Linked DNA regions of Homo sapiens: all the other regions are linked to region 3. The links come from fine-mapping of genetic effects on gene expression. A gene starts in region 3. Each other region holds a variant in brackets. All regions are shown on one strand. Distances are between the middles of the regions.

What was found.
Region 1: its variant is fine-mapped to the expression of SLC24A2 in cerebellar hemisphere (GTEx, PIP above 0.99).
Region 2: its variant is fine-mapped to the expression of SLC24A2 in neural progenitor cells (Aygun 2021, PIP 0.95).

Annotation. Positions count from the first base shown.
Region 1 is chr9:19,729,468-19,737,653 of GRCh38, forward strand. The region is part of intron 2 of SLC24A2 (solute carrier family 24 member 2); the gene reads right to left. Among named protein-coding and RNA genes, the nearest start is that of SLC24A2, 55 kb to the right of the region's middle. The variant C/T (reference allele first, on the strand shown) is at 3,349.
Region 2 is chr9:19,680,611-19,688,796 of GRCh38, forward strand. All of the region lies in intron 2 of SLC24A2 (solute carrier family 24 member 2), which reads right to left. Among named protein-coding and RNA genes, the nearest start is that of SLC24A2, 100 kb to the right of the region's middle. The variant C/CAGA (reference allele first, on the strand shown) is at 4,102.
Region 3 is chr9:19,785,156-19,793,341 of GRCh38, forward strand. SLC24A2 (solute carrier family 24 member 2) reads right to left here and starts at 3,882. Exons shown (of 11, transcript NM_020344.4): 1 at 3,730-3,882; 2 at 782-1,864. The coding sequence starts at 1,711. LOC124902128 (a long non-coding RNA gene) reads left to right here and starts at 4,004. Exons shown (of 2, transcript XR_007061432.1): 1 at 4,004-4,123; 2 at 5,770-5,905. RefSeq lists an enhancer at 2,798-3,445 and a silencer at 8,003-8,186.

The DNA.
Region 1 (8,186 bases), 56 kb before region 3:
AGGTGTCCAATAACAGGTGAATGGATAAAGAAAATGTGTTGTACATACAAAATGGAATACTATTCAGCCATAAAAAGAATGGAATCCTGTCATCCACAGCAATGTGGATGGAACTTGAGGATAAGTGAAATAAGCCAGGAGCAGAAAGTTAAACAGCACATGTTCTCACGCATATGTAGAAGCTAAGAAAAAAAGGGGGTGATCTCATAGAAGTAAAAAGAAGAAAAGAGGATACAAGAGGCTGGATAGGGAAGGAGGAAGGGAGGGCTAGAGAGAGATTTATTAAAGGATATAAAATTAGAGCTAGAGACCTGGAATAAGTTCTAGTGCTCTATCTCAACTATAGAATGCCTATAGTTAAAAATATGTTAGATAGTTTCAAGTAGCTAGAAGAAGGATATTAGACATTACCAACACAAAAAAATAATACATGTTTGAGATGATGGATATGTTAATTACCCTGATCTGATTACTATACATTATTATATGGATCTAAACATCACTAGGTACCCTATGAATATGTACCATTATCATTTGTCAATTGAAAACGTAAAATTAAAAAAAAATAGAAAAGTACTGCCATTTAAATGAATGAATGCCAGGTCACTTTACCCAAGGCTGCAGGGTACCCACAGCAGCACAGGTGTCTCCCTCACTTCCTTCAGGCCTCTGAACAAGTGTCACCAAAGAGAAGGTACAGAATGCAGTGAGAACCATGACAATATTTCATTGCCTTTAATGTAGAATGAGTCTTTGGAAAATATTTGAATGTGAAAATTTATCTTGAAGGTAACTTGGCAATATGTATCAAGATCAGTAATGTGCAGGCTTTTGACACAGTAATTGCATTTATCCTACAGATAAATTACATAGTTATATTTGTAGGATAAATAATTACATAAATATATGATAATTATTTAACGTATATATTTATCTGTCCATGTATACAGAGGTAGAATTACAAAGATGTTCAATGTTATATTTTTGTGATTATAGAAAACAACCTAAATTGCCCACCAGTAGGCGAACAGTTAAATGACTTCACAACCTTAAGAATGCTAGGCCATTATTTCACAAAATGAGGTAAGTTTATACATAGCAACATGAAAACATATCTAACTTATATATTAAATTTAAAAAGCTAGTTGTAGAATTTTATATCTAGTTTAAGAGTCATTGTTTTATTGCTTAGAATACACACATATGTATATTGACAATGGTTTTCATCCCTTTATTGCCTGAATTGCTAAAATATGAATATATTACTTTTGCATTAAAAATTTAAACATGCTTAAAATATTTTTCGATGCATATATTTTCTAAGCATAAATGACTACATTTAAAGTCACATTTAATAGTGTTTAAATCATCACTCCTACTCCTTTCTACACTTAAATCCTATAACTCTTAGGTTTTTTTTTTTACCTTTGATAATAAAATTTTTTGACAATGGAAAAAAAGATATTCATCTTTCAAGCACCTGACCTACTTAAAACTGTCACACTTTTCAGTTCATTTTGCTTCATAGTCCATTTGTTCAAATGCTAAGTGATAATTGATTTGTCTTGAGTTCATCTTTCAAAATAAGCCAGCATAAAACAAACTAGTATACAACATAAGGCAGCTGATAAATCAAGTTTAGCAATTCTTCTCATTTATATATTGTCTCGATATCAAGCCCCAAATAAACTTTAGAAGGTGGTCTAGCTGGTGGAAAAAATATGAATTTTAGAATTATGATTTATGTTTGAATCCTGTCTCTGTCATAAACTACTAGTATAACTTATCTTCTCTGAGCTTCAGTTTCTCCATCTGTAAAATACATTTCTTGTGAGGATTATACATAATGCTATGGACTGAATGTTTGTGTACCAACCCCACCCACATTCAAATGTTGAAGCTCTAACCCCCAATGTAACTGTATTTGAAGATAGTATAAAGAAGTAATTTAAGTTAAATACAATCATAAGGGTGGGGCTTTGATCTAATATTTGTGTCCCTATAAAAAGAGACACTTAAGAACACTTGTTTCTCTCTCTCTCTCTCTCCGTGTGTGTGTGTGTGTGTGTGTGTGTGCATGTGTGCACATGCACACAGGCTATACAAGAAAACAGCAAGAAGTTGAACATCTATGAGCTAGAAGAAACCAAATCAGTGGATACCTTGATCTTGGACTTCCAGCCTCCAGTACTGTGAGACATAGATTTCTGCCGTTTAAGCCACCCAGTCTGTGGTATTTTCTTATAGCAGCCCAAGCTGACTAATACATGTAGCATAGGTAAAACATCAAATATAATACCAAGTACAGGGTTGACACCAAATAAATGGTGACTGCAGGCTGCCCACACTTTTCTTTGCACAGCAACCTGTTAGCAGGACCTCACACATACTGGAACTGTGTTCTCACTTTGCCTGGCAGCGTAACCTATACATTGTGAGCCAGTTTGTCCAACCACTTGAGCAAATATTATCTCTTTTGTCTGTGAAATGAGTATGACAATATCTACCAGGGTTGTGAGGATTTGAAAACATGGAGGAGAAGCACTGAGATTGGGTTGGCACATGGCAGGTGCTCAAAAATGATACCTATTGCTGTGTTTTTTATGGATGTCCAATATAAGACCTTAAAGAACTCCTTGTTTTGTTAAAAAAAAAACTCTTCCTGGTGAACTTTTAGACAGAACTGCAAAAGGGCAGGTGCAAATATTTGTCCAGCTATGGTCAGCCCAGCCCCTGACCCCTAGTGGGCACATTATGTCTGCTGCCAAAACTTTCCAAGTGGTTTAGCCCCCCTGGCTGGCATTGAAGAGGCAGAGGTTGTGGGATTAATTTCCACAGTCTGATTAGCTTTCAGAGAAAACTCTGACTTGTAGCTTGGAATGTCATAGTGGCCTGAGACCACCTCTTGAAAAAATACTAGCAATACTGGCTATTAAAGAGCATGAGAACCCCAACCCATGCAACTCCATCAGGGCTGGCAGCCTTTCTTATTTTTTTAAATTAATTAATTTCTTTTTGATTGACAAATAATTGTGTATATTTACGGGGCACAGTGTGATGTTGTGATCTATGCATAAATTGTAGAAAGATTCAATCAAGCTAAGGAACATATGCAATGTCTTAATGAGGCTTTGGCAATGTCAGTCATACATTAGTATATAATCCTAACGTCGCAATCTGAGAGCTACCTCTCCCCCGTGTCTGTGCTGGTTCTCCCTCTGCAGCCACTTTGCCAATCACATTTCAAATGCAGAACCCAGGCCTGCCTGTCTCAGGGCAGACCATGAAACAGAGACACTGGCTGCCAGGGTCACTTTTGATTGCAGGGCCAGCTGCCCTCCCATCTGC[C/T]TGTCAGGCTGGAGAAAAGGCTGAGAATTGAAAATGTGAAAATAATGCAGCCCCAGTGTAAAAAAAAATCCAGATTTTTCAATTGCCATTCTGCGAGTAAAACCTAGGAATTAACCTGTGGCCTTTTTGTTTTATTGTTTCATAAATGAGTAATAGCTAGAGGGAGGTATCCCTTAGACCATTTCAGGCCCAATTGCTACAGAGAAGAAAATGATACTATGAAGTCACATAAGGATGACACATTTTAGAAGTCTTAAGATGTGACTCTTTTTTTTTTTTTTAAACACGCTGGGCATGTGAGCTACCTTCTGGATGGTATCTTGGTCCAAGTTTCCAGAACTACTGCCCTTTGGTGCCTGAGTCTCAATGATGGGGAGAACAGGGCACTATAAATTCAGAGGCTCTGGATTTAGAATTTTCTTGGAACAATTCGGTATACCTGTTATTTGTGAATGCATTTCACATCATTTGGATATTGTCAGAACATTACTGACCTAAGGGTATCAGAATCAAAGCTCTTGATTTTCTTCAGCCCAGAATGCCTCACCAGCAAGATGATCTTCTTTCCGTTCTCTTACAATATCCCCTTCAGTCATCCAGCCCATTGCCTCCTCACACCTTTAAGTGAAAACAGGTCTGATTTCCAATGACAATCTGTGAAGGAAGCCTACAGAGAACGCAGCTTGCTGCACCCAGCATGAAGACTAGCACAGCACTCACACCTCGCTCAGCACCCAGGATTTGCACAGGTGTTCAGGAAGCATTGAATGAATGAAAAATCATGAATAGAGGAAATCTGCCCACTTAGTTATTTCTGGAGTGATCCTGGTATCTCTTCCAAGTTTTCTTGTTATAAAAATAATCTTACTTGTGGTTTGCAGAAGTTCTCCAATGTCCTCTGGACCCCTGATTTTCTCATTCTTAAGACTCAATGGTTGTCTCTGTTGGGCACCTCTGACCTACGTTTGTGGTTTAACATATATTTATTGAGTGCCTTCTCTGGGCCAAACCTTTGTGAACAAGGTAGAAAACTCCCGTACTTTTGAAGCTTATATTCTAATGCTACAGATGGGCAAAAACAAATAAATACTCTTATTTCAGGTAATAAGTCCAGGAAGAAAAACAAAACAGAATAAGGGAATGGAAAAGAAAGGGGTGGGGTGAGGTTACTTTAATTATGATGATAGAGGCAAGTCTCTCTGAGGAAGTAACATTTAAGCAGAGACTAAATAGAACAGTTTAGGGATGTTCTTAACTACATGCAGGGATGTAGTTAGAATTAAAATATGTGTAGCCAGTTTTCCCAGCACCATTTATTAAATAGGGAATCCTTTCCCCATTGCTTGTTTTTGTCAGGTTTGTCAAAGATCAGATAGTTGTAGATATGTGGCATTATTTCTGATGGCTCTGTTCTGTTCCATTGGTCTATATCTCTGTTTTGGTACCAGTACCATGCTGTTTTGGTTACTGTAGCCTTGTAGTATAGTTTGAAGTCAGGTAGCGTGATGCCTCCAGCTTTGTTCTTTTGGCTTCGGATTGACTTGGCAATGCGGGCTCTTTTTTGGTTCCATATGAACTTTAAAGTAGTTTTTTCCAATTCTGTGAAGAAAGGCATTGGTAGCTTGATGGGGATGGCATTGAATCTATAAATTACCTTGGGCAGTATGGCCATTTTCACAATATTGATTCTTCCTATCCATGAGCATGGAATGTTCTTCCCTTTGTTTGTACCCTCTTTTACTTCGTTGAGCAGTGGTTTGTAGTTCTCCTTGAAGAGGTCCTTCACATCCCTTGTAAGCTGGATTCCTAGGTATTTTATTCTCTTTGAAGAATTGTGAATGGGAGTTCACTCATGATTTGGCTGTTTGTCTGTTATTGGTGTATAAGAATGCTTGTGATTTTTGCACATTGATTTTGTATCCCGAGACTTTGCTGAAGTTGCCTATCAGCTTAAGGAGATTTTGGGCTGAGATGATGGGTTTTCTAGCCATATGTAGAAAGCTGAAACTGGATCCCTTCCTTACACCTTATACAAAAATTAATTCTAGATGGATTAAAGACTTAAATGTTAGACCTAAAACCATAAAAACCCTAGAAGAAAACCTAGGCAATACCATTCAGGACATAGGCATGGGCAAGGACTTCATGTCTAAAACACCAAAAGCAATGGCAACAAAAGCCAAAATTGACAAATGGGATCTAATTAAACTAAAGAGCTTCTGCACAGCAAAAGAAACCACCATCAGAGTGAACAGGCAACCTACAGAATGGGAGAAAATTTTTGCAATCTATCCATCTGACAATGGGCTGATATCCAGAATCTACAAAGAACTCAAACAAATTTACAGGAAAAAAAAAACCCCATCAACAAGTGGGCAAAGTATATGAACAGACACTTCTCAAAAGAAGACATTTATGCAGCCAAAAGACACATGAAAAGACACTCATCATCACTGGCCATCAGAGAAATGCAAATCAAAACCACAACGAGATACCATCTCACACCAGTTAGAATGGCAATCATTAAAAAGTCAGGAAACAACAGGTGCTGGAGAGGACGTGGAGAAATAGGAACACTTTCACACTGTTGGTGGGACTGTAAACTAGTTCAACCATTGTGGAAGTCAGTGTGGCGATTCCTCAGGGATCTAGAACTAGAAATACCATTTGACCCAGCCATCCCATTACTGGGTATATACCCAAAGGATTATAAATCATGCTGCTGTAAAGACACATGCACATGTATGTTTATTGCGGCACTATTCACGACAGCAAAGACTTGGAACCAACCCAAATGTCCAACAATGATAAGACTAGATTAAGAAAATGTGGCACATATACACCATGGAATACTATGCAGCCATAAAAAATGATGAGTTCATGTCCTTTGTAGGGACATGGATGAAGCTGGAAACCATCATTCTCAGCAAACTATCGCAAGGACAAAAAACCAAACACCGCATGTTCTCATTCATAGGTGGGAATTGAACAATGAGAACACATGGACACAGGAAGGGGAACATCACACACTAGGGCCTGTTGTGGGGTGGGGGGAAGGGGGAGGATAGCATTAGGAGATATACCTAATGTAAATGACGAGTTAATGAGTGCAGCACAACAACATGGCACATGTATACATATGTAACAAACCTGTACGTTGTGCACATGTACCCCAAAACTTAAAGTATAAAAAAAAAGAATTAAAATATGTGATAACAGTAACGCAAACAGTGGGAGAGATTTAAGTGAAATTAAAATATTCTGAGATTCTTAGTACATGCTGTCTGGAAAATGGTAAAAGTACTCATTTATATTGGGCTTTTGTAAGTTAAGCATGCATTATATGTTCTCTACAATTTTAATAACGGAATAATAAAATAGGGATGGGAAACAAAATATAATAATAATACTTGATTAATCCAAAGAGTAGCAAAAAAAGGAGAGAAAAATAATATAGTCTCAGTAAGAGAAAACAGATGATGGATTTAAACCCCAAATATACCCAAAATTACATCAAATGCAAATTGATTAAATCTAATTAACTGATTATAAACAAAACAGTGCAATCAGTACCCAATCACCTGCAGCTTACAAGAGATACATTTTGAATATAAGAGCTTGAAAATGTTGCAAGGATAGAAAATTCTAGATAAACATTAACCAAAAGAAGTCTGGTTTAGCAATACTGAAATTAGACAAAGTAGACTTTAAAGCCATAAGAATTTCTAGAAATCAAGACCAGGCCAGGCATGATGCATCATGCCTGTAATGCCAGCACTTTGAGAGGCTGAAGTGGGGAGATCACTTGAGGCCAGGAGTTCAAGACTAGCCTGGGCAACATAGTGAGACCCTCGTCTCTAAAAATAAAAGTAAAAATAAAAATAAAACTAGCCAAGTGTGGTCGTGTGCACCTGTAATCTTAGCTACTCAGCAGGCTGAGGCAGGAGGATCCCTTGAGACCAGGAGTTTAAAATTATAGTAAGCTATGATCATGCCACTGTACTTCAGCCTGGGTGAAAGAGTAAGACCCTGTCTTAAAAGAAATAATCTTATACCATGCAAGAGTTAACCCATCATGATGATGTAATAATTCTCAATTTATAATGTCTAATAACATAGCTTCAAAAAAGACAAAGCAAAAATTAACTGAACTAAATGGGAAACAGACAAATCTGCAAATATAGTGGGAAATTTTAATACACTTCTGCCAGGAATTGATAGAGCAAGCAAAAGAAATCAGTATTGAACAAATAATATTTGAAGAACATGATGGACAAGGACATCTGCTACCTTTTCCTCTTTGCAGCACTGCACTAAGAACTTTGCCAGACACATCTAGGCCCATTTGCGGGGACAGGGGCATGAAGACAGATAGAGGTCCACATTCTACATATCTGAATGTGTTAATTTAATAAATTTAAGAAGCTAAGAAAACTGTCAAAATATATTTTCTTCTCCTTCCTTGACAAATATATCTTCATGGTAACAAAATAAAATTATGATTATTGTTTATATATGACTGAAAATTAGCAAAATGTCAAAGATTATTATATTTAATTATTATGAAACATGCATGGGTGTTCTGTTGATGGCCATGTGTGAATGATGGTGTCATAAAACAAAGGCATGAATAACCCACCACTATTACATATTTATTTTACAAAGTATTTCCCATGCCTTTATTTTAGCAAATTTATCTCGTTACAATAAGATATCCATATAATCGGTACACTACTAACAGTAATGATTTAAAAGGTTAAAAAATAAAATGCAATTGCATTCAAGGTGTATACATTTTGATATATTTTTATAAAAAATAAGAAACATCTAGAATATCA
Region 2 (8,186 bases), 100 kb before region 3:
TATATATATATTCATAGCTAACTTTATGAAAGTATATATTTCATTTTGGGGTCCCTTACCTCTACAGTCTTTCCCATGACTCAGATTTACTTATTTTAAGGCAAAGATTCATGGCTTCCAAACATTTGAAAACTCAATTTCACAATGTTGAGAAGTTCACAACTAGTGACAGTTATTTCTTTCTAATCAAGAAATGATCAGACATTTATGCTGACTTTAAACTCAAAATATATACCAGAGTTGTGTGTGTGTGTGTGTGTGTGTGTGTGTGTGTGTCACAATGCACTCAGAATCTGACCACTTCTGGAGGCCTCTACTATTACCACCTGCCCGATAAGTGCAATAGCCTCTGGCTTATTGGTCTCCCTGCCCTGTCTGCCTTCATCCCAGCTTGTTCTCAACACAGCAGCCAGAGTGACCCTGCACAAAATGTTGTCAGAATATATTTCTCCTCCACTGAAAGCCTTCCAAATGGCCCCCTATCTCAGAGCAGAAGTCAATGCCCTTATAGAGAGACTCCAGATCTACAACTACCTGCTTCCAATCTTACCTCTCTGACCTCACCTGCCTTGCTTATGTCTCTCCAGCTGGAGAGAAAGGTATCCATTATTCTCTCTGCAATGCTGTTTACACTAGCTATCCACATAGATCTCTGTTATCTCCCTCCCTTCCTTCAAGTCTTTGCTCAAATATCACCTTTCTCAGGAAGGCTTTCTCCGGTCCACCTTATTTAAAATTGCAACCTCTCTGCACCGCAGAACTCCCTATCTCTTTTCTCTCCTTCATGCTTTTCCATAGCCCTTCTCATCTACTAACATCCTATCTCATTTACTTATTTTGTTTATACTATGGCTCCCTCTTCCAGAATGTAATCTCCACAAGGGCAGGGAACATTGTCTCTTTTGTTCCCTGCTGTAATCCCTAGCCTAACCCAGTTGAGGTGTGGGGGCAGTGCAGAAAGCAAACCACCCACGGTCCTGTGGAGGAACTGGGTCTCCCTGGGATTTCCATGTCTCCATCTTCTTTGCCCCTGGTTCATACTGCTCAGCTAAAAAAGGTTTTGGAGGAAAAACATTCTTTATGCAGCACAATCCATAAAAATAAAGCAGTGGGCAATAATAGAGCCCACTAGTAGAACATTAGCAGGCTTGGCTGTCATCTTTGTTCTTAGTTAACATGAGCATTTCAGAGACATATTGAGGATCTATAGATTAGTGAGTGGCAAAATCATTTGCTTTCATTCTCTAGAGACTCATTCAATTAACCTTTATCTAAGAAGCAGTATATTATGTTCGCAGAATATTTGAGAGAGGTGTAACAAACACTAGTTTGCAGAAACAACTCCTTCATGTAACAGAAATAGGAACTGATTGATGGGTTCTGCCAGGGTGATTGATCGTCCTTTCTTCTGTCCAAATTTGCTAGCTTGATTTTACGTTGACATTTCTTATGCAGTTCTCTCTGCCATGGGTTAATGGGAACTGGGACCTAGAGAGCCTCTGAAACTCATTATCTTGCATCATGGATGTGCTTTATGTGAACATTTTTTCCAGAGCTAAGATTCTAACTATAACAATGCTCACCTGCAGTGATGAACATCCACAAATGTTCCCTGGGCCAGGAGTAAGAGTCTCAATGTCTAAGGCAGCACACGTGAAATGACATTGAATGTTTGTTTTGGTGCTGATAGTAGACGGTTGCATACAGAAGTACAATAACTGAGAATACAACCTGGGCCCTTCTGTAAGCCCAACCGGGAGAAACATTACCTTAAATTAAATTGCTAATGGATAGTAGCAGGAATAAAGATGCCAGCAATAGCAACCCTCACCTTCAGAGCTCTTTTCCCCTTCTGTAAATTTTAACTAAAATAGTAAAGGGGAAAAACTTCAACACCAAACCACAGAAGTGGAACATCTCAATCTCTGTGGCCATGGTATGCAGAAAACCCTGAGGAAAGGCCTGTTTCCATGGCAAAGTATAACCACTACATTATATAGTGTGACACAGCAATAATACAGGGAGCAGGAGAAACACAGCGTTAAGTAGAGGTGACCTCTAAATACACAAACGTACTGTAAGAAATATCCATAGGAAATATCATGGCATCTTTAATTTGGGATTAAACAGATGTATTTAGTTGATATTAAAATACATTCATCATGAAAACTAATTTGTCTTTATTCTAAGCAAGTTATGGAAGAGGTGGAAAATTTTTGAAGGTAGGGCCAAAGGGAAACCCCAGAAAAGTCATGACTTACATCCATTTTCCATTCTTTTTACTTCATGTATTGATTAGCTGTACTGTCTCAGAGTGAGATGGATTAAAAAACAAAACAAAACTGAAAGCAGCTGTTTCAAAAAAGGTTTAGAGTAAAAAATACACATTATGAGTGCAGTAAAGCTAGGGACCCACCGTGAAAAATCAGCTACACAAATTTCATTCCTAGCATAATGCTGATGCAAAATTTCAGTGCAGGGCATTTGCCAAAGGGAGAGGAGGGAAAGGTTTACTATGAAATCCTTTGAAAGGACAGTACATTAACTATTGAACACTTACTGTATGCTAGACGCTGTAAGTGCGGCGAGGTAAAACTCTGAAAGCAAATCCCCCACAGGCAAGATGCAGTTTAGTGGGACAGAAGGATGAACCTGAACAATTATAAAACTGATAGCAGGAAACACAGGTCTTTGCTCCTAGAGTGCTACTGAAGCAAAGGGAAAGGAACTATTGCCTCAGCATAGGTTTCTGGGAGATTACATGGATGTTGAGCGGTATCTTGAAAGATGGAGGAGCTCATTGTCTTTATGGAAATGGAAGAGTCCAGAAAAGGTGATGGGCATTTGGTCTGACCACACCTAGCCATTGTGATCAGGTGATCTTCATTTCACATTCAGTGTCCTGCCTGGAAATTGTGCTCTGAACTTTTTTTTTTTTTTCAGTTTCCAAGAAACATAAATTTATTTTTTCATGAAATGTGTGTTCAACCAAACCTCACTAACACAACAATATTTAGTTCATTTTCCCACTTATTTTAAATGGAGGCTTTCAACCAGAGCTTCTGAATTAGCAAGGACCGCTATACCACGTGATGAAAATCTAGCTAAGCATAAGCAGAACTGAAATTTTATATAGCTAGAACAGCTTTCTTGTGCTGAGATGGGAGCATTTAAAAACATTATTTTTTTGAGGCGGGGAGGAAACACTTAAAAAAGCTGTTGGTGATTTCATGGTTACCGGTCCTGGGCCCAGGGGCTCCACACCTCTTTTTGTTTCTCTTACTTCCTGGCAGTTCCTCCCTGTGTCTGGCTTTTCACCATCTCCCCTCCTGGGGAGTAGCCCTTGGAATACTATGGTTACAAGCAAAAGAAACTTCCTGCTTAATTTGGAAAGGGCAATTTATTGTAAGGAATGGGGAACTCACTGGATTGAAAGAAAATCAAGAATTGGGTTTAAAAACAGTAGACACAGGGTGCTCTAGGGGACCAGGCAGCAGGAACTGATGGGCAATCTTTTCAGGATGCCCCTGCAGGGCCAATAAGCTCCAACTTTTTTTTACTGTTTTGTGACATTTCATTCAAATTTCTGAGGCCTGGGAAAGAGACAGACAGTCCTCCTTGGACGATGTGGTTTGTTCTAAAAGAGGCAAGAATCCCTTCCCCCATTGGAAATCAGGCTGCTGCACTGAAGGACATCCTCTTTCCTCTTCAAGGAAGTTCTTCTTCTAGAACTAGGGTAACATCCTTAAAGCAAACTTCCATTCAGGACTCTTGATGATGCTCTTTTTGATCAACATGATCAAAACTAGTTTCCGTGATGATCAAAGAGAGATGGAGTGCTTTTCCTGAAGCATTCAGGACATGTGGCTGGGGAGAGCAGTACCTTAAAGACCCACACTACAAGTGAGCATAACAGCACCAAATAACTAAGGAAGGGGAAACCCCAGTCTATCTGACAGGCAAAGGTGACCCTTGAACATTTTAAGGGTTTCAGGGTAGTGAGTTTCATCTAGACTTGTTGATATCTGGAATTTGGGTCTTTCATTACGAAAGACAAATTGTGAAGAAAGTAGGTATATAAGAAACCTGGAAAACGCAACC[C/CAGA]AGATGACAAGATGGCAGCATTGCAGAGGTGAGTTCATATCTGGTTCTTGGTTGGGTTAACAAATTCACTATGTTTTGAGGAGAAGGATGCCTACTCTTACCACTCCTGTTCAACATGGTACTAATATTCCTAGCCAGAGCAAGCAGGCAAGAGAAAGAAATAAAAGGCATCCAAATAGGAAGACAGGAACTCAAACTATCTTTGTTTGCAGATGATATAATTCTACACCTGGAAAACAACACCCTCTCTCCAAAAGTTCCTATATCTGATAAATAACTCCAGCAAAGTTTCAGGATAAAAATTAATGTACAAAAATCACTAGCATTTCTGTATAAGTACTGCATGCTAACTGACTGCGCCACTGGAGCATGCTAAAAATCACCAGCATTTCTAAACACCAACAATGTCTAAGCTGAGAGCCAAATCAACAACACAATCCCATTCATAATAGCCACAAAGAGAAGAAAATACCTAGGAACACAGCTAACCAGAGAGGTGAAAGATCTCTACAATGAGAATTACAAAACATTGCTCAAAGAAATCATAGATGACACAAACAAATGGAAAAACATTCCATGCTCATTGATTGGAAGAATCAATATTGTTGAAATGGCCATACTGCCCAAAGCAATTTACAGATTTAATGCTATTCTTATCAAATTACCAATGACATTCTTCACAGAATTAGAAAAAGCTATCTTAAAAATTATATGGAACCAAAAAGGAGCTCAAATAGCCAAGGCAATCCTAAGTAAAAAGAACAAAGCTGGAGGCATCATGTTATCTAACTTCAAACTATACTACAAGGCTACAGTAACCAACACAGAATGGTACTGATACAAAAACACATAGATCTATGGACACATAGACCTATGGAACACAATAGAGAACCCAGAAATAAAGCCACCCCCAAACCATCTGATATTCAACAAAGTCAACAAAAAACAAGCAATGGGGGAAAAGACTCCCTATTCAAAAAATGGTGCTTGGATAACTGGTTAGCCATATGCAGAAGACTGAAACTGGGTCCCTTCCTTACTCCATACACAAAAATCAACTAAAGATGAATTAAAGACAAATGTAAAACCAAAAACTATAAAAACTCTGGAAGATAATCTAGGAAATACTGTCTGGACATTGGACTTGGCAAACATTTCATGATGAAGATGCCAAAAACAAATGCAACAAAAACAAAAATGGACAAATTGGACCTAATTAAACTAAAGAGTTTCTGCACAGCAAAACACACTATCAACAGAGTAAACAGACAACCTACATAATGGGAAAAATATTCACAAACTAAGCATTCAACAAAGGTATAATATCCAGAATCTATAAGGAACTTAAATTAACAAGCAAAAAACAACCCTATTAAAAAGTGGGCAAAGGACATGAACAGACACTTTTCAAAAGAAGACATACACATGGCCAAGAAGCATATGAAAAAATGCTCAACATCATTAATCATTAGAGAAATGCAAATCAAAACCACAGTGGGATACCATCTCAAGCCAGTCATAATGGCTATTATAAAAAGTAAAAAATAACATGCTGGTGAGGTTGCAGAGTGAAGGGAATGCTTAGACACTGTTGGTGGAAATGTTAATTAGTTCAGCCACTGTGGAAAGCAGTGAAGTGATTTTTCAAAGAACTTAAAACAGAAGTAACATTTGACCCAGCAATTCCAATACTGGCTATATACCTAAAGTAATATAAATCATTCTACCATAAAGACACATGTACATTGATATGGTTTGCCTATGTCCCCACCCAAATCTCATCTTGAGTTGTAGTTTCCATAATCTCCACGTCTTGCGGGAGGGAGCCCATGGGAGGTAATTTAATCATGGGGCGGTTACCTTCATGCTGTTCTCATGATAGTGAGTTCTCACAAGATCTAATGGTTTTATAAGGGGCTTTCTTCCCTTTGCTCAGCACTTCTCCTTCCTGCCGTCATGTGAAGAAGGACATGTTTGCTTCCTCTTCCACCATGATTATAAGTTTTCCAAGGCCTCCCCAGCCATGCTGAACTGTGAGTCAATTAAACCTCCTTTCTTTATAAATTACCCAGCCTTGGGTATGTCTTTATTGGCAGCATGAGCATGAACTAATACACATGTGTATGTTCATTGCAACACTATTCACAACAGCAAAGACATGGAATAAACCTAAATGCCCTTCAACAGTAGGCTGGCTAAAGAAAATGTGATACATGTACACCATGGAATACCATGCAGCCATAAAAAAGAATGAGATAATGTCCTTTGCAGCAACATAGATGGAGCTGGAGACCATAATCCTATGTGAACACGGGAACAGAAAACCAAATACCACATGTTCTCACTTATAAGTTCAAGCTAAACATTGAGTACACATAGACACAAAGAAGGGAACAATAAACACCAGGGCCTACTTAAGGGTGGAGAATGAGAGGAGGGTGAGGATCAAAAAGCTACCTATTGGGTACTATGCTTATTACCTGGGTGACAACATAATCTGTACACCAAACCCATGACACACAATTTATGTATCTAACAAATCTGCACATGTTCCCCGAACCTAAAATAAAAATCAAAAAACAAAACGGAACAAGTTCACTGTGTTTGGGGTATGTAATGTATAAAATGGCATGTTACTCACCCCTTGTGTACATAGTCCTCAAGTTACTTAAAGTTTATGAGCCATTATGAAACTCTGTAGGAATTCGTGTGATAGACTCGAAGGTGAAATCAATTAGGGAGCAAACAGACAAATTCCTTTGTCCATTTGGGTGGTCCCACATATCAGGCCATAGCTATGACGGAAAATGTTTCCTGACTTCCTCACACCGTTCACATTCCTCATTCTGAAACATTGTACCAATGTGTTCCACGCCGTGTTTCTCAACTTCTTCTTGAGCTTCCAACTTTGGGATCATAGGACCACTTTCCTGTTTGGGGTTTTACCTTTACACTTGACTTTGGTACTTACTTGCTCTCTGGCTTTGACCTTTGCATTCCTCCTTGAGTCCAAATCAGATTCCTACCAGTTACTACTTTCAGCTGTCTTGATTAGCACCCCAAGTCATTAGGATTGGATTTGAACCCTATAATTTGGGTGACAAATGCTCCAGTCAGGTGCTGTGACCCCTCAGGATCCAGGCAATGACAAAGGTGCTTGCGTTACTTAAATGTTAATTCAGACAAGGCAGTTCAGTGGGGAGTCATCCCTTTGCCCCATGTGTGTCTTCTAGTGTTTATGCATAAACACTCTGTACTTTCCAGTAATTTATCTCTCTTCTTTTACCATTTCATTAAACTGCCAGGCAATATTTTTGTATGCTTTCGAAAAGCTCTGTGAAGGCTCCTCTCAGTGATGGGTGAAATGATTTCTAAAAATAACCTGCAAATCAATTTGTTCAGCTTGTAGCTTGTATAAATCTTGAAGTAAGGTGCTATTAAATGTGCAAAATAAAATATTTTAGTTTAGAATATGTTACTAATACCCTGCGAAAAGAGCCCTGGATTTAGAAAACAGGACTTGATAATCCTGGCTTTATGGATTACTGATTGTGTGGCTTTAGGCACATCATATAACTTCTCCAGAGCCTCAGTTTCTTTGATTGCAAAATGAGAGAATAACATCTCCCTCATTGTATTGTGGCAAAGTACAATGAGAAAACATGAAAATGGTGCCGATAGAAAGCTGGGTATCATTTGGTAGACTTACTACACATTTGTTAATCTTTGTTTGAACACAAAACCTAAAAGTGATTCCAAGTAGTCACTGGGGTATACGGAAAAGCTGTAGGAAAGTTTACTTTTTTAAAAGAGTTGCATAGAAGAAAAACAAATAAACAAACAAAGAAAAAGAAAAAAGCTGCATTTCAGTTAAGTTGATTAGAAAGAAAATTTCCTTAGAATGAGTTTTGTTTTTATCTTCATTTTAAGGACGCAAAGCAGAATGTGTTGCTGGTGAATAGCTTTCATTTAGGAAATGCACTAGGAGTGCATTTGCAGAAATTTTTGAATATTATTTTACTGATATAAGTTTCTTATGTGGCCCCAACATACATGTCTTTCCCTAAGCCAGAGGAATGCCTCTT
Region 3 (8,186 bases):
TAGGTGTTTGCAGGAATTACTTCTAAGCTCTTTACCAATCTGCTTTCCACTCACCTAAGTGGTAGGATGGCCACGATTGTTATTAAAACTCCCTCAAATTCTACTCTAAAAATAGTTGAAGTCATGTTTATTATGGTGTGCAAAGTGGGTCATTGTGATGCAGAGGCAGATGGCAGGGCTGGCCAATGATTCTCTTTACAATGGATGCTGATCAGTTCCTGGTCAAGTGACCTAAGACATGATTGTGTCAATCAAGAAAAACAGCCATGACAACAATAATGACAAGCCCTGCTGGGCTAGGCTGCTGACTGGAAGGTACAGCTACGGTGACACAAACTTTCTTCCTCAGACATCTCTAAAGAGATGGTTCTTTCTTGGTAATTGCCATGTGTTCATTTAAAAAGAAAAGGCCTTGCAACTTTCTAGGCACATACACACTTTCCTATGAAAATTAAATTGTTCACAAAATCATTATGCCCACTTTCAGAAAATAAGAGACAAATAACTGCTGAATTGGCTTTGGGAGGCTTATGTAACCTATATTTACAAGTGTTTTACTCTGAAGCAAGTAGCTGAGGAACTTAGTAAACATCTGCAAGAATACCCCAAAATTATTTTTTCCACTGCTATGTTAGTCTAGCTATCACAGAACTGCAGAATCAATCTGCTATCCACAAGAGCCCCAAACACCATCACATCAAAAGAACTGCAGATCTCAAAAACATAATAATTCAGAACCGTAGTCAAGAAAAGCATTAAATAAAAATCCACCACCACCAACCTTTGCTTGGGCTTCTGGTGCTGTCACCTTGACGACCTTATTGCGGTTTATCATTTGCTTCACCCATTTTTCTACTTGGACGTTGAATTTCATGAAAACCACATAGCAAAAATAAGCTGTTAAGAGAAGCAAGCTTTCCCACCACATGATGACATTATCCAGGAAAAATATGATCAGCATGATCAAGTCAACAATGTAGAAAGACACATCTCGAAAGAGCGGCCACCATGTCAGGTTTAAGATTTCTCTAGAAAACAGAGCACACATGCCAATAACAAAGAGGATGTTGAATACTGCTGAACCTACAATTGTGCCTATGCCAACGTTGCTGTGAGCGATAAATACCCCTATGAGAGATGTGAAAAGTTCTGGGGCTGACCCTCCTGCAGCCATGAAGGTGGCTCCAGCCACATCATCAGAGATGCCCAGTTTTTCAGTGATGACAGTCAAAGAAGGAACAAAGAACTCATCACAGACAATGGCTAAGGCTATGAACATGTAGATCATTCCAATGACATGCAGAATGATCGCACCTTTTCTTCTCTCCTCAAGGGAAAAGATGTCTTTCGGGTAGTCTCCTTGGGCGTGATCTGTACTATTCTCAGACTCGCCTTCCTTAGAAAGAGGTGGCTGTGGAGTATAATCCAGAATCTTGTCATTTAAATCTAAGAGAGTTCTCTGATGGTAACCCTGTGCTACCCTAGGGCCACTTACAACACTGGCCTCTCCTGTGCTCTGTGTATCTGTCTCAGAAAAGGCACTGATTGAAAATGAGACAGTGCTAATGGCTACCAGACCCATGAAAAGGCCTAAGACTCGAATTAACTTCAGTTTTTTCTTGACACTATAATGTCTTCTGCAGCCAGACAGTGACTCATCCAAACACCATTTCTCTAGGGAAGTGATGGTGGTGCTTTGTTGCAGATCCATCCTGGGTCTTCTGGTGGATATGGTGATCTTCCAACTTTAGACTCAACCAGATGGTTCTTTCATACTTTTCCTTACTTTATAGTTAACGATGCTTGTGGGGTACTTTCACAATCAGGGATTGTTATGCTTCACAGGAAACTTTCATCATTTATGCTTAAATAAAAATAAAAACGAGAATAAGTAAATCATAAAATCACGTCTTTTTAATAAAGATCTTTGCAGATATGATAAAGTCCTGTCCTGCAGCTGTGCGATCTTGGGTAAGTTACTTAACTTCTCTGTGCCTCAGTTTCCTCATTTAAAATGGGGACAATTACGGTACCTACCACCCAGGATTGTTTTCAAGATGAGTAAAAACATATGTAGCACTTAGTATGGGATGTGGCACTTATGAAGATGTATGTATAAACCCAAATAAATATTTTGGTAAATCCAATGTTAGGTGCAGAGAAGGCAGATGTAAGAATAAAAATTTTACAGGTGAAAATCTATCAGATTATCTCACCTTAAATCATGTAATAACCTTCCAGTGCTATAAAGGTACCTAGACTTCTTTCAGAACTGTCTAGGTACTTGGCAACTAACAATTATTCATTGTTTACTTTTGGTCCAATTACATAATTCTCAGTTGTAGGCAACTTTTTCTGATTTAACCTATCATTTGGAAAGTGAGTGATTCTTTAATTTAGTGATCTTTTTTCTGCACACATAATGATATCAGATCTTATTTTTCATAAAAAGTCTCTCCTTTATCAGATGCGGGAAAGTAGTCCTTTACAAATTTAAGTTTACAAAAAAAAATTCTGGTGACATGCACAAGCTGCCTTCCCTAAACATCTAGACATTGTTTTCAGCTAAATATTTTTTTTAAAAAAACAACCTTTAGTCATATTTAAAATAGGCAGCTTAGTAAGTCAAAGAACTCCCAATGCAGTGAAATAACAAGTAGGCTATTTCGAGAGACCACATGTGTATTTCATAAACAATACGCAAGTTGTAGCAATACCTCTGTCCACAAAATCTGCCCAAAATAGCCCCACCACTGACTTTAATAGGTTAGATATCCAAAGCAGAGTTTTCTTTCTCTATCCCACGGAGGAGATGGGTAAAATAGCCAGACTTGACAGCTGATATTCTGAAGAGTTCTCTTTTTAGTTTTTCTTTAAAAAGACTATTCTTTTCCATATCAACGATTTCATTTTGGAGGCAGTCGCTGAGATAATCTCAGGTGTAAAATAAGCTAATTAAACACACGCCACTTAAATACTGAGATTAGCTGGAGCTCAGGTTTTCAGAGCAAAGCAAGAGCACAAATCAACCCCGCTGAGTTGCTGCTACTCCTGAGATAACCCGACCCCATCACGGAGATTCCCAGGTGGCTGCGAACGTCAACGCTTAGCAGGAACGATTAAGCGATTCACAGCACTCAGGGGATTGTGTAAATGCCCGGCCCGGGCGACCAGCAGGGACAGATTCAACTCCCCGGGCGCAAAGTCATCTCCAGCCCGATCCTCGCTCCCCCTGAAAACCCACCGCTCGTCTCCCCGGGAGCTGCCTCCGTAGGAGAATGTTCGCCCCCAGCCGCGCCCCAACTTTGCCTTGCGTGGTCCCAAACTTTCCCTGGTGGATTAATAGGAAAATAAATCTAAAGGACAGACGCCCCACCTGTGAGCTTGGAGCTGGGTTGCATTTGGTGAGGCGCTTGGCCCGCATCCCCCTGAGTCGTTTGTAGGTGGCTGGGGAATGGAAGCGCCCCTCTGCGCGTCTCCCCCGACGGCAGGCCCTGCCCCACGCCCCCCATCCCAAGCCAAAAGCAAGGGTAGGAGAGGCGGGGGCTCCAAATCCACGCCCCGGAGCACAGAGAGTTGGCTAACTCCTAGCGGGGCCTGGGGCGCCCACATCCACGGCAGAGCCACCTGTGAGCCTGCAGAGCAGCAACGGGATGCGCGCAACCGGGATGCGGGGACGACCGCCACAGCGGCTACAGCGGCAGGCGGGGCGCAGCCGCCCGCACTTACCAGGATAAGATGGGAGGACGCGCACACGGCGGGGCCCCCGAGCGCGGCCCGCCGCTCCAGTCCGCCGGCCCTCCGCCTACCCGCTCTGAGGCCCGGGCTCTGGCTCGCACTGGCTGCCGCTCTCGCCAGCCGGGCTGGGTTCGGGAGGAGACTGAGCCGCTGTGAGCCCGGCGCTCCGAGTCTGGCGCTGCCCGGCCCCCGCCGGCCCCTCCCTCTGGGCTGTGCGCTGTGCGCTGGGAGCGGGGCCGCAGCGCGCTCAGCTCCCGAGTCCTTTGCTCCACGCCTCCTGGGCGCAGAGGCGACGCTGGCAGCCGTCTCTTAGGAGATTTCTCCGCAGTGTGGACGGGGGTCAGGATTTGCAGGCGAGCAAGGGCAGAGAGGAGAAATCGTACAGGTCGGTGACGCGCCTAATTCACAAAGCCTGAAAGTGCTGTCAACTTTGGGGTCATCTTATGCTGGGCACCGCCTCTCCAATTATCTGCAAAAAGTGATAGCAGTCGCGCTTTTCTTTAGGAGGCGATGTGATGTGTAATGGTGGAAAAGACGTTCAATGAAAAGGCACGGAGGCCTGCAGGACAGGCTGTTGGGGTCCAGGGTTTCTTGAGTGTTGGATTTGGATGCTTGGGACACTGCAGGGGCTTCAGTCTTGCAGGGTGACCTTTCATTTCATGGGTGATGAAAGTGAGACCCAAAACCCCGTGTCATTTTGAATCACTGACAGGCTTCGGCTTTTGGCCTCGGGATGTCCAGCCCAGTGCTCCTTCCTGTCCTATCTGGAAAGCAAGATCCCCTTGACCACAAGAAATAGAATCAGGCTTGTTGGGGATGAGAGACTAGAATCTGGGCCAAAGAATGGAAGACGGTGGTAAGACAAATTGGTAGTGAGGGAACCCCTTTTACCCAACCCTGTGACCACCAGCAAAGCTGCCAAGAGGTACCCAACTCGTGAAGCTCTGAAAGCTTTTCGCACATTTTCCCCTCTCCTTACCCTCCATCCTTCTGTTCTCTCCCCCATCCAAGAGGGTTTCTTCATGCCCTCCTTACAATGGGGGTAATGGGTATATCCTGAGAGCTCATGACCTCTGACTTAGAGTACAGCTCTGTAGTCAGACCTCTGGGCCTACTCATCAATAAGTAAAGGGAAGCCTAGGGAACTTAGAAATATTTTTCTTCCCCCCACCCCCCAATCAAAGCCAGGCATTCAAGACTCAACTTTTCTTTTTCTTTCTCCTTTCGAGACTGAATCTTGCTATGTTGCCCAAGCTTGTCTTGAATTCCTGGGCTCTAGCCATCCTCCAGCCTCAGACTCCCAAGTGCTTGCAGACTATAGGTGCCTGACTGAATTTTTTTATCTTTAACTTTTAATTTAGAAAATTTCAAACATATACAAATGTAAGAAAGTAGTATAATGAATCTCCATGGGGCCATAACCAGCTTGAACAATTATGAACTCATGGACAGTCATATTTCATCTATACCCCTTTTTCCTATGTCATCATTTTGAAGCAAATCCCAGAGCATCATATCATTTTATCTGTAAATATTTTCAGAAAGCAAGAAAACTATCAACTACCACTAGGGTTGTGTCAAGAAGGGGACAATTCAAATAGGCTGTCACTGACCAAAGACGGGCTAATTTGAGCATCAAAAAAAAAAAAAAAAAAGATAATCGCAATTGTTTAAAACACATCAAACATGATTATATCTATTAATTGATAATATTTTAAAAACAACTGAACAGATTGATTGCTTGATGGTTCAGAGGGAACCAGCTCATAATTTTCAAAACTGTTTTAGGAAAAGGAAAACAATTGTGCATTTATTTTGCCTTTTCTATACAAATTGGACCTCTGGGTAACCAATTAGGCTTTATTTTTACCCTGCCTTTGTCTACTTTCCTAGTTTAACAATCCTATTCTTCCCTGAGGCAATAGGTGCCTCTGGCTACATGGGGTGCGGAGGGGAATATCACAATGTCTAGAAGAGTTTTTCTTATGTTATCTTCTAGAATTTTTATGGTTTCAGGTTTTTCCCCTACAGCTCAGAGATGACCCTGAGTCTTGATTCGGTGAGAAGAGGAATGAGATCCAGATGAAGACCTCATGAGTCCATAGATTGTATTGGCTGGGATTTGCACTTGGTTGCACATAATAAAAATTCATTCTTGGTGATTAAACCAAACAAGAATTTATTTTTCTCATGGTAAAAAGAAGTCTGAAAGCAGACTGCCCAGGGTTTATAAAATAGCTTCAAGATGCTATCTGGGAACCCAGATCTTTTGATCTGTCTTTCTTAATGTATGGCTTTATCCTCATGGCTACAAAATGGTTTATTCTTTTGCATTACATCTGTGTTCCAGGCAGGAAGAAGGGAAAGAGTGAAGGGTGAAAGGCAGAAGGCCTCCTTGCTAGGCTTTGTCTTTTTATTTAGGAAGGGATTCTGTCAATGCTTCACTTACATTTCACTGATCACGACTTGGTCACAAGACATAGCTGCAAGGGAGTGTAAACAGTATTTCAACTGAGCACATAGTCATCTTTTAGAAAATCAGGGCTCTCTTAGTAAGGGAGAAGGGGGAGATAAATGTTGTGGGAGTGACTACTCCTACACAGTTCCAAAGCATCTCAATGAGATCCATATTCGACTCAAGATTTGACAGTTGACCAAGAACTTGGCAATTAATTGCCACAACAGTTGAGAAGGCTACAACTTCCATCCTGGTAGTAATGGAGAAAAGCAGGGCCTGTCATTTGTCCAAATCACACTACGTGGAAGCAGAGGAATTGAATAACAACTGTAGGTCTCCCAGATCCACAGACCTTATTGCCTAGTCATAAAGAAAGGGTAGCTTCAGGAGAAAATTTACTACCATCAAATGAGTTATTAAACAGTAGCATTTGCTAAGAGACTCAAGTAGATTAATCAATGGGTCTCTTTTTAGAAATTATTAAGGAGCTACTTCTTTATATTTGTAGATACTTGTGTAAGTATAAACATTAGTTGGCCTCATATTTACCCTTCTATTAGCTGTAAGATTGGTTTTAACATATAGTTTATAGGAGTAATTGGTATTACCAGTTAAGAACAATGGGCTCTTTTTGTTTTGAAGAGGAGGCTTTCAAAAATCAGTAATGAATTTTAAAAATCACTAGGTCATACCTAAGCTAATAAAGGATTTTTAATGTAAAACTGCCAAAGGGGTGCTAGTTAATAGTTTTGCTAAGCACCCATATAATTTTCACATAGTTATCTAGGCTGGCATGATTTAAAATAGGTTAGGAATATCCCCTTGCCCCATCTGAAATAACATCCCCAGGGGGCCACAGTGTCTACAATTCCACCATTAGAAATTCATTGCTTTGGCTTTATATTTTATAATTTCAGGAATTTTTAAAGAAGCAAGTAGCTCTGGAGTCATAGTAATGATTAGCAATTTTTTATTGTTTTTGACTTGACATTCAGTCTCAAGGGAAAAAAATTCTAGTAAACTGTCATGAGCAGAAGGTGAAAGAGATGGTTGAGGGCCAGGTGTGGGTGTGGTGGCTCACGCCTTTAATCCCAGCACTTTAGGAGGCTGAGGTGGATCACCTGAGGTCAGGAGTTTGAGACCAACCTGGCCAACATGGTGAAACCCTGTCTCTACTAAAAATACAAAAAAAAAAAAAAAAAAAAAAAATGCTGGGTGTGGTGGCAGGTGCCTGTAATCCCAGCTACTTGGGAGGTTGAGGTAGGAGAATCACTTGAACCTGGGATGCGGAGGGTGCAGTGAGCCGAGACGGCGCCATTGTACTCCAGCCTGGGAAACAAGAACAAAACTCCATCTCAAAAAAAAAAGATAGGATAGCTGAGTCAGAAAGTTGTGGGCAACCCAGGGACAAAATAAAGTACAGTACTCATACTTACTTTGTTAATCATTTCTTTCTTCATTCTCTCCACATATACAACCTTTTTTCTGACTTATTAAAATCTCTAGCTTCTCTGTTATTAAAATTGCAGGCAGTCAGCACACTTATGAAGTATTCAATGTGCACAAAACCAGTAGTTCCAAACCTCGACTTTAGCTAAACAAAAGAACTGGGGTTATTTTTAAAAGACTCCTGACAATGACCCTCACTCTCCTCCCATTACTGTGAGCCCCGTGAGAACAAAGAGTCAGTATCATGCATTTCTCAGCATCTAGCCCTGCGCTTGGCATTTTGGCTAACACATATCTGTGGAGTGAATTAAGATGATGGCAAATACAGTTACTTAAAGGAAGGTGAGTCAATCAGGAGGATGTAGGTTATGTTATGATAACAAAAAGTTCAAAAATCACAGTGGCTTAAAACAATGAAGGTTTTTGTTTCTCACTTGTGCTACCTGTCCTTTGTGAAGTTTGCTGTGTCATCCTAACTCCTAACCCCAAGCTGGTCACTATCTAGAACACTGCCATTTGCTGTTGCAGGGAGAAAAGATGC